Linked DNA regions of Homo sapiens: region 2 is reported to be linked to region 1. Evidence: microRNA targets listed by miRTarBase, many of them from high-throughput screens and not tested one by one. Region 1 holds a microRNA gene; the other region holds the end of a gene's coding sequence.

The links. The annotated mature microRNA hsa-miR-30a-5p reads UGUAAACAUCCUCGACUGGAAG and lies in region 1 at 3,201-3,222, opposite strand. An mRNA with a match to its seed (bases 2 to 7 or 8) in the 3' UTR can be bound and repressed. Matches are read on the target gene's strand: a 7mer-m8 pairs with bases 2 to 8, a 7mer-A1 pairs with bases 2 to 7 and ends in A, and an 8mer does both.
Region 2: miRTarBase lists AP2S1 as a target of hsa-miR-30a-5p. The part of its 3' UTR that is shown has no 7-base or 8-base seed match.

Annotation. Positions count from the first base shown.
Region 1 is chr6:71,400,395-71,405,465 of GRCh38, forward strand. It overlaps MIR30A (microRNA 30a), which reads right to left and starts at 3,227; the gene lies at 3,157-3,227. RefSeq lists an enhancer at 1,695-2,223.
Region 2 is chr19:46,833,886-46,838,956 of GRCh38, forward strand. AP2S1 (adaptor related protein complex 2 subunit sigma 1) reads right to left here. Exons shown (of 5, transcript NM_004069.6): 4 at 4,855-4,914; 5 at 4,282-4,663. The coding sequence ends at 4,562. Among named protein-coding and RNA genes, the nearest start is that of SNAR-E, 5.7 kb to the left of the region's middle. RefSeq lists an enhancer at 4,324-4,824.

The sequences.
Region 1 (5,071 bases):
TGATTTAACAGCTTCATTATGTATTTGTTTGGCAGTGCACAAAAACAACTACAGTACGCACTAGGAAATTTATCTTCCATATCTATACAGAATACTTCTTATGATATAGAACCACATGAAGAAAGTCTTCTGTATTATTTTAGTGAGATTGTTAAGACAGTTCACTAAGCACCACCTTTAAAATTTCAGTAAGGTGCTTCCAAAATTAAGATAAACAATTAACTTCCTGTTACTCTTCTGATACAGAAAAATAACGGGCAATTTTGAATTAGTGTTATTAAGCTACCAAAAATTGATACCACTCAGGAAAGATTGTTTTCCCCTTGAATGGTAATGTTTAGCTAAAATTCTAGTAAAAGAAAACAGAGCAATTCTGAGAGGAATCTAAATAGAAAGGGGTTTCTCAGGTCTAGGTAACTAATTCCCATGCAGACGGCCTTCAAATGCATTTCCCTTGCCTCCACAGTCCTCTGGTCTGGTTTTAGTTATTCTGTAGTAGAGGAAAGGCTTCATACATGTGTAATATTTATAGACAACATCATTGTAAAATGGAGTGCAAGTTCAAATCAGAGTTTTAAGGTCAGGAAAAATAAGTATCACTTAAATCATTCACCACTGACACTTTCAGAAGCTCTTAACTTCCTTTAGAAATCTCCCTTTCAAGCATGTGCCAATTTTTATTTTGGCAAATCATGAATAAAAACTAAATGTATAATACTTTTGATGATTACTCAGTGTGGTGCTATTTTTTAAACATTACTAACTTTATAGCAACACTCACATTACATTTAACTAACACATTTTGACAGTGTTTTATTTTCAGTAACTGACTTACTACAGTCCATTTTAAGAATTTTATGTTTTAGTTTATAGATATTTTATTATGCTGATATGTGAAATTTTAAAAATTATAGTAAGAAAAAAAACACATGAAAGCAATTAGTAAGGGTTTCTAATTTATGTTAAATATTAGTTTATCTTACCTAAGCACATGCATGGTAACTCTGTCCACGTAGTGGTAGAAACATAATACTGTAAACTTTAGAAGTTATTTTTTTTGTAAAATAAAAAATTGCATCCAGATCTTATTTCAATTATGAATAACACACTGTTGATGTTATTTTATTTATTTATATGTATATCTATATATATATATAGATATATTTTTTTTGAGATGGTAGGCTCGCTCTGTCGCCCAGGCTGGAGTTCAGTGGCACCATTTTGGCTCACCACAACCTCTCCCTCTCAGGTTCAAGCAATTCTCAGCCACCTCAGTAGCTGGGATTACAGGCACGTGCCACCACACCCAGCTAATTTTTGTATTTTTAATGGAGACAGGGTTTCACCATGTTGTTCAGATTGATCTCAAACTCCTGACCTCAAGTGATCCACCTGCCTCAGCCTCCTAAAGTGCTGGGATTACAGGCGTAAGCCACCGTGCCTGGACTGTTGATGTTACTTTAAAATAGTAGTTTACATTATTACTGTGGAAATGTGGGGCACAAGACATAAGAAATACTAGGTATTAATTTTGAAACTACCCGGAATGGCTTATGGAGGTTTGTATTTGTTGATTTAAAAATAATTAAAAATGCTGTAATTTTTACAAATTAAAAAGTTCCCATAACTAATTATTTACATGAACAAAATGAACAGATAAAAATGAAAAATGGAAAATTTAGGGGCAGTAAGGTAAGGAAGAGGATATAAAATAACATAGGAAGAGAACCTAAAGAAAGTGAAGGTCAAAGATTTAGGAAAAGTTTAACCATTTCTTCAAACCTATAGTCATTTACCTAGGAAATACGGTCGGGTGACCCCAGAAAAACAGCCGAGTTATTTGCTCCAGGGGTTTTCAGCTTACCAATTAAAATAGACCACATTCTCAGTTCCAGACCCAGGGCCTGGCAGAGGCCTCTCCAAGCCCCTTGCATTTCAGTGGCAGTTGATGAACCTCTCATGGCCCAGCATGACTAATAGAGTTTTGATAGCTTTATGTATGAGGGAAACTTAAAGACATTTCTAACACATATTTCTCTCCATCCCAGGTATTAGAAGAAATGCTACTATTTTAAATAGTGGTATGATCATACTGTTTTAGTATCACTTCTTTATCATCATCATCAATGGGTATTAAACAGGGAAAAGAAACTCTTTTACATTAATGGAAACACTATATATTTATAAAATACTGTGTTTTAGAGGACAAAAGATATCACTTTCATATCTTTTTAAAGTGTCTAGTTTCTATATAAGTGTATCCTTAATATTTCTATTATACACTTAAATATTTCTCTTATACACTTAAATATTTCTATTTAAGTGTATAATATTAAAAATATCCGCCATAAGAAAAATACGCATTTACAAAAAAGGAAAATTAGAAATTATGTCCATCACAGAAATCTTCTACAGGATTCTGAATCTTAAAATTGTCTTCATATATTTAGGATAGAATTTGATGTATTTATTATTTTTAAGAGATATGAGTTATTGCATAAAGCTAAGTTAAAAGTTCAACCAAATGGAAACAGTATCCACAAATTCCTAAAATACTATTCTAATCATCTGAAACAAGAATAGGTTTTTCAAATAATAGAGTTAGTTGAATCAGTATTTGTTTGTTTTAGACACTTTATTAAGCTGAGAGCTGCTACTTTATTACTTAAACACTAAGCCTATAAGGAAATAAAAGGGGTTTAATCCAAGTAATGTGAAAATAACTAACCCTTCATCTTACTTTTTTCCCCCAAATAATTGTGGTTTCATTAATGGATTTTTTTTTTGTGAATGGGTCTAAAAAACACCTATTTTGAAACTGCAGAAAGGGCAGGACAAAACAAATCACTTCATAGATTTTTCTGGGAAATATTGCCCTACTACGCTTTTAAAAAAAATAAAAATACTGTAACACATTTCCTCATTTCTCTTACGAATACTTTCTTTTTGATATTGCAAATTCTATGCATACACAGAGCACCTCCTCAATGCCCTGCTGAAGCCCTCTAAAAATGTACAGACATGGTTTTAAAGTGATTTAATTTATACCATTTTAATTCAGCTTTGTAAAAATGTATCAAAGAGATAGCAAGGTATTCAGTTTTAGTAAACAAGATAATTGCTCCTAAAGTAGCCCCTTGAAGTCCGAGGCAGTAGGCAGCTGCAAACATCCGACTGAAAGCCCATCTGTGGCTTCACAGCTTCCAGTCGAGGATGTTTACAGTCGCTCACTGTCAACAGCAATATACCTTCTTTAGCCTTCTGTTGGGTTAACCTGAAGAAGTAATCCCAGCAAGTGTTTCCAAGATGTGCAGGCAACGATTCTGTAAAGTACTGAAGCCTCATTCAAACAGCAATATTCTAGAAAATGTCTCAAATTCAAAACAAATAAGAAGGCTCATGGATGTCTATTATTCATCACCGAGCTTCTAGTTTCTATAAAATTTTGTGATATACTAAAACAACATATATAAATGGTTTCATTCATTATTGTTAGCCACAAGAAGTAAATAGGCAAGTGGCCAGGTTACTTAATATGATTTCAACATGCATTATGTAATTACAATCCTTTAAGCAAAAGTGACCAAACACAGAAACTAAATTATCTTAACAGCGTAAAGCGTACATTTAACATCAAATACTGCAGTTGAGTGAACTTAGACTACCGTGAAAATATAAAAGGTCTACTTGGAAAGTTATAAACTCTGACAAAAAAAAAAAAGACTTACATGCTGCTTTTATAGATCACTTTTGCTCTAAAGTCTGCTCCCAGAGAGGACTTGTACAGTCAGCTGATTTTTGAAAGAGTAAGCAACAATCAGGAGAAAAACAGAAAAGAATAACGAGGTATAACACAGGCATATATCAGTATGTGGATCAAAGTTTCCCACTGGAAAAACACAGAACCTATCACTCACAACAGTGACGCACATTAACTCCAAATTTGAATGTTTTGAATTCCACTCCCATTCTCTTATGAAAATAAATGAGGAAAACTGAAGGTTAAGCTCTATCAGTCACTACTTTCCTGAAGTAATTCAAAACCATTCTGAATCTAGTGAAAGATTAAGTTGATACAGAAAAGTGGGTGTGCCTTTCCCTGAGATTTGTTTTTAGATGAAGTTACCGTAAGGTTCTTAAATTGTGTAAGTCTTAGTAGTTTGTGATCTCAAACCCGAAACAAAAATAAAATCCACACAAAAAGCATCATGTTTACTGAAACTAACAAATATGAAGAACTCCATAAATTACTTTCTCAAAGCAAAGGGTAACTCTATCCCATTAAGGTTAAAAAAGTTAATCTTTGAGTCAGCAGGTGAAAACAAGCTGAATTATGTTGTGGCCTTTTTCTTTATTAACTAAGGACTTTGAACTATTAAAACTTCCTAGGGAACCAGTTTTCTCAATGGGTCAAGTCACACAGGGGAACAAAGCAAACTTTATCAGTGCTGTGCAATTCTACATTCCAGAAATTCTTAGTACTTGGCATTCATATACCACTGCTGACTAGAGCTTGAGTCAATCCACCAAACTCAGCTATGGCTACCAACCTTGTGAACTTCTCACCAAGATACCCACTTCTTTTAAGTTAGCCACGACTAGACAGGCAGAGTACTCTTTAATTAAAATAGATAAATACCAAGGCTTACACCCTGGGGGGACATTGTATATCAGTGACTCTTTACAAAAAGAAAATATTTTTACCACCATAAATTTTTCTCAAAGTGACAGGTCCCCTACTTGCCTTGGAATCTTACCACTTTTAAATAACTGTAAATTATTAAATAACATGTAAAACAGTGACAAGTAAATACTAAGCAAACAACCTCAAATAACAAATAATTACTTAAATAATTCTATTGCCACCCTCTCACTTTGAGAATTGCTGATCCAAGTGGGACCTATACTACTCAGTAACCAAAAAAACAAGCATGTAGTTTAAGTAATAATGAGTCTCAGTTAAACTGGTAAAATTGTCTGGCATCTGACTGGAATAAATCTGCTTTAGCTTTCACATAGACTTCACCTAGCTCATATCTTGCTAAAAGAGGAGCCCACATACATACAGGCA
Region 2 (5,071 bases), not on the chromosome of region 1:
CCAGCTACTCGGGAGGCTGAGGCAGAAGAATGGCGTGAACCCGGGAGGCAGAGCTTGCAGTGAGCCGAGATTGTGCCACTGCACTCCAGCCTGGGCGACAGAGCAAGATTCTGTCTCAAAAAAAAAAAAAATTAAAATTAAAGTTTTTAAAAAAATTGGCCAGGTGTGGTGATGCACACCTGTAGTACAAGATACTCGGGAGGCTGAGGGAGGAGGATCACTGGAGCCCAAGAAGTCGAGGCTGCAATGAGCTATGATCACACCACTGTCTGGCAGACAGAGTGAGACCCTGTCTTCTAAAAACAAAACAAAACAAGAAAGAACCCCAGTACCCTTTAGCTATCATCTCCCTCCCATTTCCCCTGGGTTCTGACAACCCGTCATCATTTTCTGTCTCTCTGCACTTGCCTTTTCTGCATGTTTCCTATAATGGATCATTCAATATCCGGCCTTTTGTGTCTGGCTTCTTTCACTTAGCTTAATGTTTTCCAGCTTCATCCATGTCAAGTGTTACAGTAGCTAGTTAGGCACATTTTTTTTTTCTTTTTTTTTGACGAAGTTTCACTCTTGTTACCCAGGCTGGAGTGCAATGGCGTGATCTCAGCTCACTGCAACCTCCACCCTCCAGGTTCCAGCAATTCTGCTGCCTCAGCCTCCCAAGTAGCTGGGATTACAGGCATGCGCCACCACGCCCGGATACTTTTGTATTTTTAGTAGAGACGGGGTTTCACCACGTTGGCCAAACTCCTGACCTCAGGTGATCCGCCTGCCTCGGCCTCCAAAAGTGCTGGGATTACAGGCACGAGCCACTGCACCCAAGCTCTGCTCCCAATTCTTGACCTCTTACATCAGATTTGGCACAAAACTGTCCCATGCCCCACATATTAAATGATCCTATTTATATGAACTGCCCAGGCAAATCCAATAAGACACAAAGTGGAGTAGTGGTTGCCAGGTGCTAGGGGAATTGAGGGGTGATGGCTGAAGGATAAGGTTTCTTTTTGGGGTGATAAAAATATTCTAAAATGGGTTGTGATGATAGTTACCCAACTCTGTGAATATAACAAAAACCACTGAATTGTAATACCATAAATGGGTGAATTGTATGTATCCCAAAAAAGCTGTTACCACCATCCCCCAGGTTCTCCAAAATGAAACATCCTTCCCATAGCGGGCATCAGACACAGAATAAACCCGAGCAGGCCCTGTGTGATCGGACTTCCCCTCCCATCCCCAGTCCCACTCTGAACCATCTCGAACCCCCTTCTGCTTACTCTGTTCCAGCCACACTGGCCTTCTTGCAAGTTCTGCCTCAGGGCCTTTGCACTTGCTGTTCCATCGGCTAGAATCCTCTCTCTGGTTAACTCGGCTAGCAGAGTGTGATTTTGACCTTAACAAAACCAATCTCCCCTCCCCTCCCCTCCCCTCTCCTTTCCTTTCCTTTCTTCTTTTGAGACAGGTTTCACCATGTTGGACAGACTGGTCTTGAACACCTGGGCTCAAGTGATCCGTCCACCTCGTTCTCCCAAAGTGTTGGGATTACAGGTGTGAACCATCATGCTCGGCCCAAATTCTTTTCTTTTCTTTTTTTTTTTTTTTTTGGGACAAAAAGAGTCTCACTCTGTCGCCCAGACTGGAGTACAGTGGCACTATCTCGGCTCACTGCAACCCAGCCTCCTGGGTTCAAGTGATTCTCATGCCTCAGCCTCCTGAGTAGCTGGGATTATCGGTGCCCAACACCACACTTGGCTAATTTTTGTACTTTTAGTAGAGATGGGGTTTTGTCACGTTGGCTAGGCTGGTCTTGAACTCCTGATCTCAAGTGATCTGCCACCTTGGCCTCCTAAAATGCTGGGATTATAGATGTGAGCCACTGCGCCCAGCCCCCAGTTCTTACATAGACACCATATAAGTGGCAGGCAGAATAATAGCACGCCCTAAATGTCCACATCCTCATCTCCGGAACCTGTAGATGTGTTGTCTTACACAGTAAAAGGGACTTTACAGTTGTGATTACAGTCCGGGTCTTGATATGGGGAGATGATCCTAGATTATCCAGGTGGGACGAATGTAACCACAGGTGTCCTTATCAGTAAAAGCAAGCGGCAGGAAAATCAGTCAGAGCCAGAGAGAGAGAGACTGGAAGATGCTCCGCAGCTGGCTTGAAGGATGAAGGATAGGGTTACATGCCAAGAACAGGAGGCAACTTCTAGAGGCTGGAAAAGGCAGGGAAGGATTCTCTCCTAGATGGTCCAGACAGCTCTGCTGACAACTTGATTTTAGCCCACTGAAACCCATTTCAGATTTCATTGAGAATAAAATTGTGTTGTTTTAAGCCGCTAAGTTTGTGATAATTTGTTACAGCAGCAATAAAAAACTAACATGCTAGTTTATATTTATAAAAAGAGGCTGAGCACCATGGTTCAGGCTTGCAATCCCAGCAATTTGGAGGCTGAGGCGGGCGGACCATTTGAGCTCAGGAGTTCGAGACCAGCCTGGCCAACATGGTGAAACCCCGTCTCTACTAAAAATACAAAAATTAGCCGGGCATGGTGGCAGGCGCCTGTAGTCCCAGTTACTCGGGAGGCTGAGGCAGGAGAATCACTTGAGCCTGGGAGGTAGAGGTGGCAGTGAGCCAAGATTGTGCCATTGCACTCCAGCCTGGGGAGTGACAGAATAAGACCCTGTCAAAAAGAAAGGAAGGAAGGAAGGAAAGAAACTGACAGGGGCCAGGGTGTTCTCAGCTTGCGAAGGATGCCAGGCATAGGTGTGGCCAGCAGCCCCCACACTCTGCTCTCAGTGGGCATCGGGGGCCCCTTAACTTCAGAGGGCCCTAGAAACACTCAGGGGTGGCTTCTATCATCACAATGGCCAGAAGGCCACTTCTGGCACTTGGTGGGTGGAAGTCAAAAGTCCATCCACTTCTGGAGCAGCCTCACAATGAGGGATTGTCCTGGCCCAAATGCCAGCAGTGCTGTTGCCAAGAAACACAAATCATCAAGCCCAGTGCCTACATTTCCAACAACCACCGGGGCGAGCAGATAAAAATGAGGGTTCTGGAGCTACCCACCTGGCTTCAAAACTGGCTCAAAACAAACCTGGCTTGGCTACTGACTAGCTACAGACCTTGGTCAAGTCGTCTTTTTTTTTTAGATGGAGTCTCGCTCTGTTGCCCAGGCTGGAATGCAGTGGCACAATCTCGGCTCACTGCAACCTCTGCCTCCCGGGTTCAAGCAATTCTCCTGCCTCAGCCTCCTGAGTAGCTGGGATTACAGGTGCATGCCACCATGCCCAGCTAATTTTTATATTTTTAGTAGAGACAGGGTTTCACCATGTTGGCCAGGATGGTCTCAATCTCTTGACCCGCCTCAGCCTCCCAAAGTGCTGGGATTACAGGCGTGAGCCGCTGCGCCCAGCCTGGTCAAGTCTTTTAATGTTCCTGAAACATTCCTGGAACAATGTTCTCACTTGGAAAATGGGGATAATAACAGTCCTGTCCTTGGCCGGATAGAGTGGCTCACGCCTGTAATCCCAGAACTCTGGGAGGCCAAGGCAGGAAGATCACTTGAGCCAGGAGATCACTCCAGCCTGGGCAACAGAGCAAGACTCCATCTCAAAAAAAAAAAACTTAGCTGGGCATGGTGGCACGCACCTGTAATCTCAGCTACTTTGGAGGCTGAGGCAGGAGAATCACTTGAAACTGGGAGGCAGAGGTTGCAGTGAGCCGAGCTAGCGCTATTGCACTCCAGCCTGGGCAAAAAGAGCGAAACTCCATCTCAAAAAAAAAAAAAAAAATTAACCAGGTATGGTGGCACACATCTGTAGTCCCAGCTACTTGGGAGGCTGAGGTGGGAGGATCAACTGAGCCCAGGAGGTCAAGGCGGCAGTGAGCCATGATCCTGCCACTGCACTCCAGCCTGGGCAATAGAGTGAGACCATGTCTCAAAAAAAAAAAAAATAGTCCCAGACTTATAATCTAGTGAGCTTTAAGTAAGGTAAGACATGTCAATTGCTTAGAACAATGCCTGGGAGAGGGTGAGTGCCCTTCAGCATTAGCTGAGTATTGTTATTTTAGTAGCAAGTGCCTGGAATCTAAACCCATCACCCCTTCCAGCCTGGGGGCCCTTGGTGAGCAGGAGCAGGTCTGAAGAGCACCTGGGTGTCTCACCTTGCTCAGCACAATGAGGGGCGTTTGTTGACTGACTGACTGATGGACTGAAGGCAAGGCATCCTAGGTATCTGGTTCCCAGGGGAGACAGGCAAGGGCTCAAAGACGGCAAGGCCAGGCAGGACCACAGGTTTATTGGGGACTCCACGCACAGACGCTTATGGCATCACACGACAACGGCACGGTTACTCGGGACACACACGGTGGCCTCTGCCCACAGCCAGGGCCCAGAGGCAGTGGGGTGCAGTCTCCTCCCTTGTGGCCCAGACCCAGCTGGGTCCCTTCCTCCTAGGCAGCTGAGGGAAGGACTGCTGGGTTGGCCACGGGCCTGGGAAGGGGAAGCGAGCAGGCGAGTCCAGGAGGGGCCGGGGCCGGGGTGGGGCTCGCCTGCCCTCACTCCAGGGACTGTAGCATCAGCAGCTGTTTCAGCACCTTCGTCTGGCTGGTCTCTCGGATTTCGCCAGCCAGGAACATCTCGTCCACGACCGTGTAAACCTGTGTGAGGGGAGACCCTGGGGTGAGACGAGGCCCCCCAGGATGCTGGCCCGGACCCTGGAAGCTGGGGCTCTGATGCCCCTCGAGCTGGGACACAGACCTCAGCAGAGGCTCCGGGTGGCTAGTGCACCACGGGTCCCCCCCGTCCCCCTCCTCTGGCTCCTTCAGCCTCCTCTTCACCAGGAGCCTACCTTGTAGAAGTTGAACACCAGGTCCAGTTCACAGACATTGTGGAAATATTCGTTTAAGACCTGGGAGAGGAAGGCAGAGATGGTAAGAGATGGGCAGGGAGAGAGCCACACACGCACAGAGATGGGAACAAGGTCATCAGAAAGAGACAGCAAAAAAAGAGACCAAGGGGGAGGCAGGGGAGAGAGAGAGACAGTGACAGGGAGAGAGGCAAGGAGA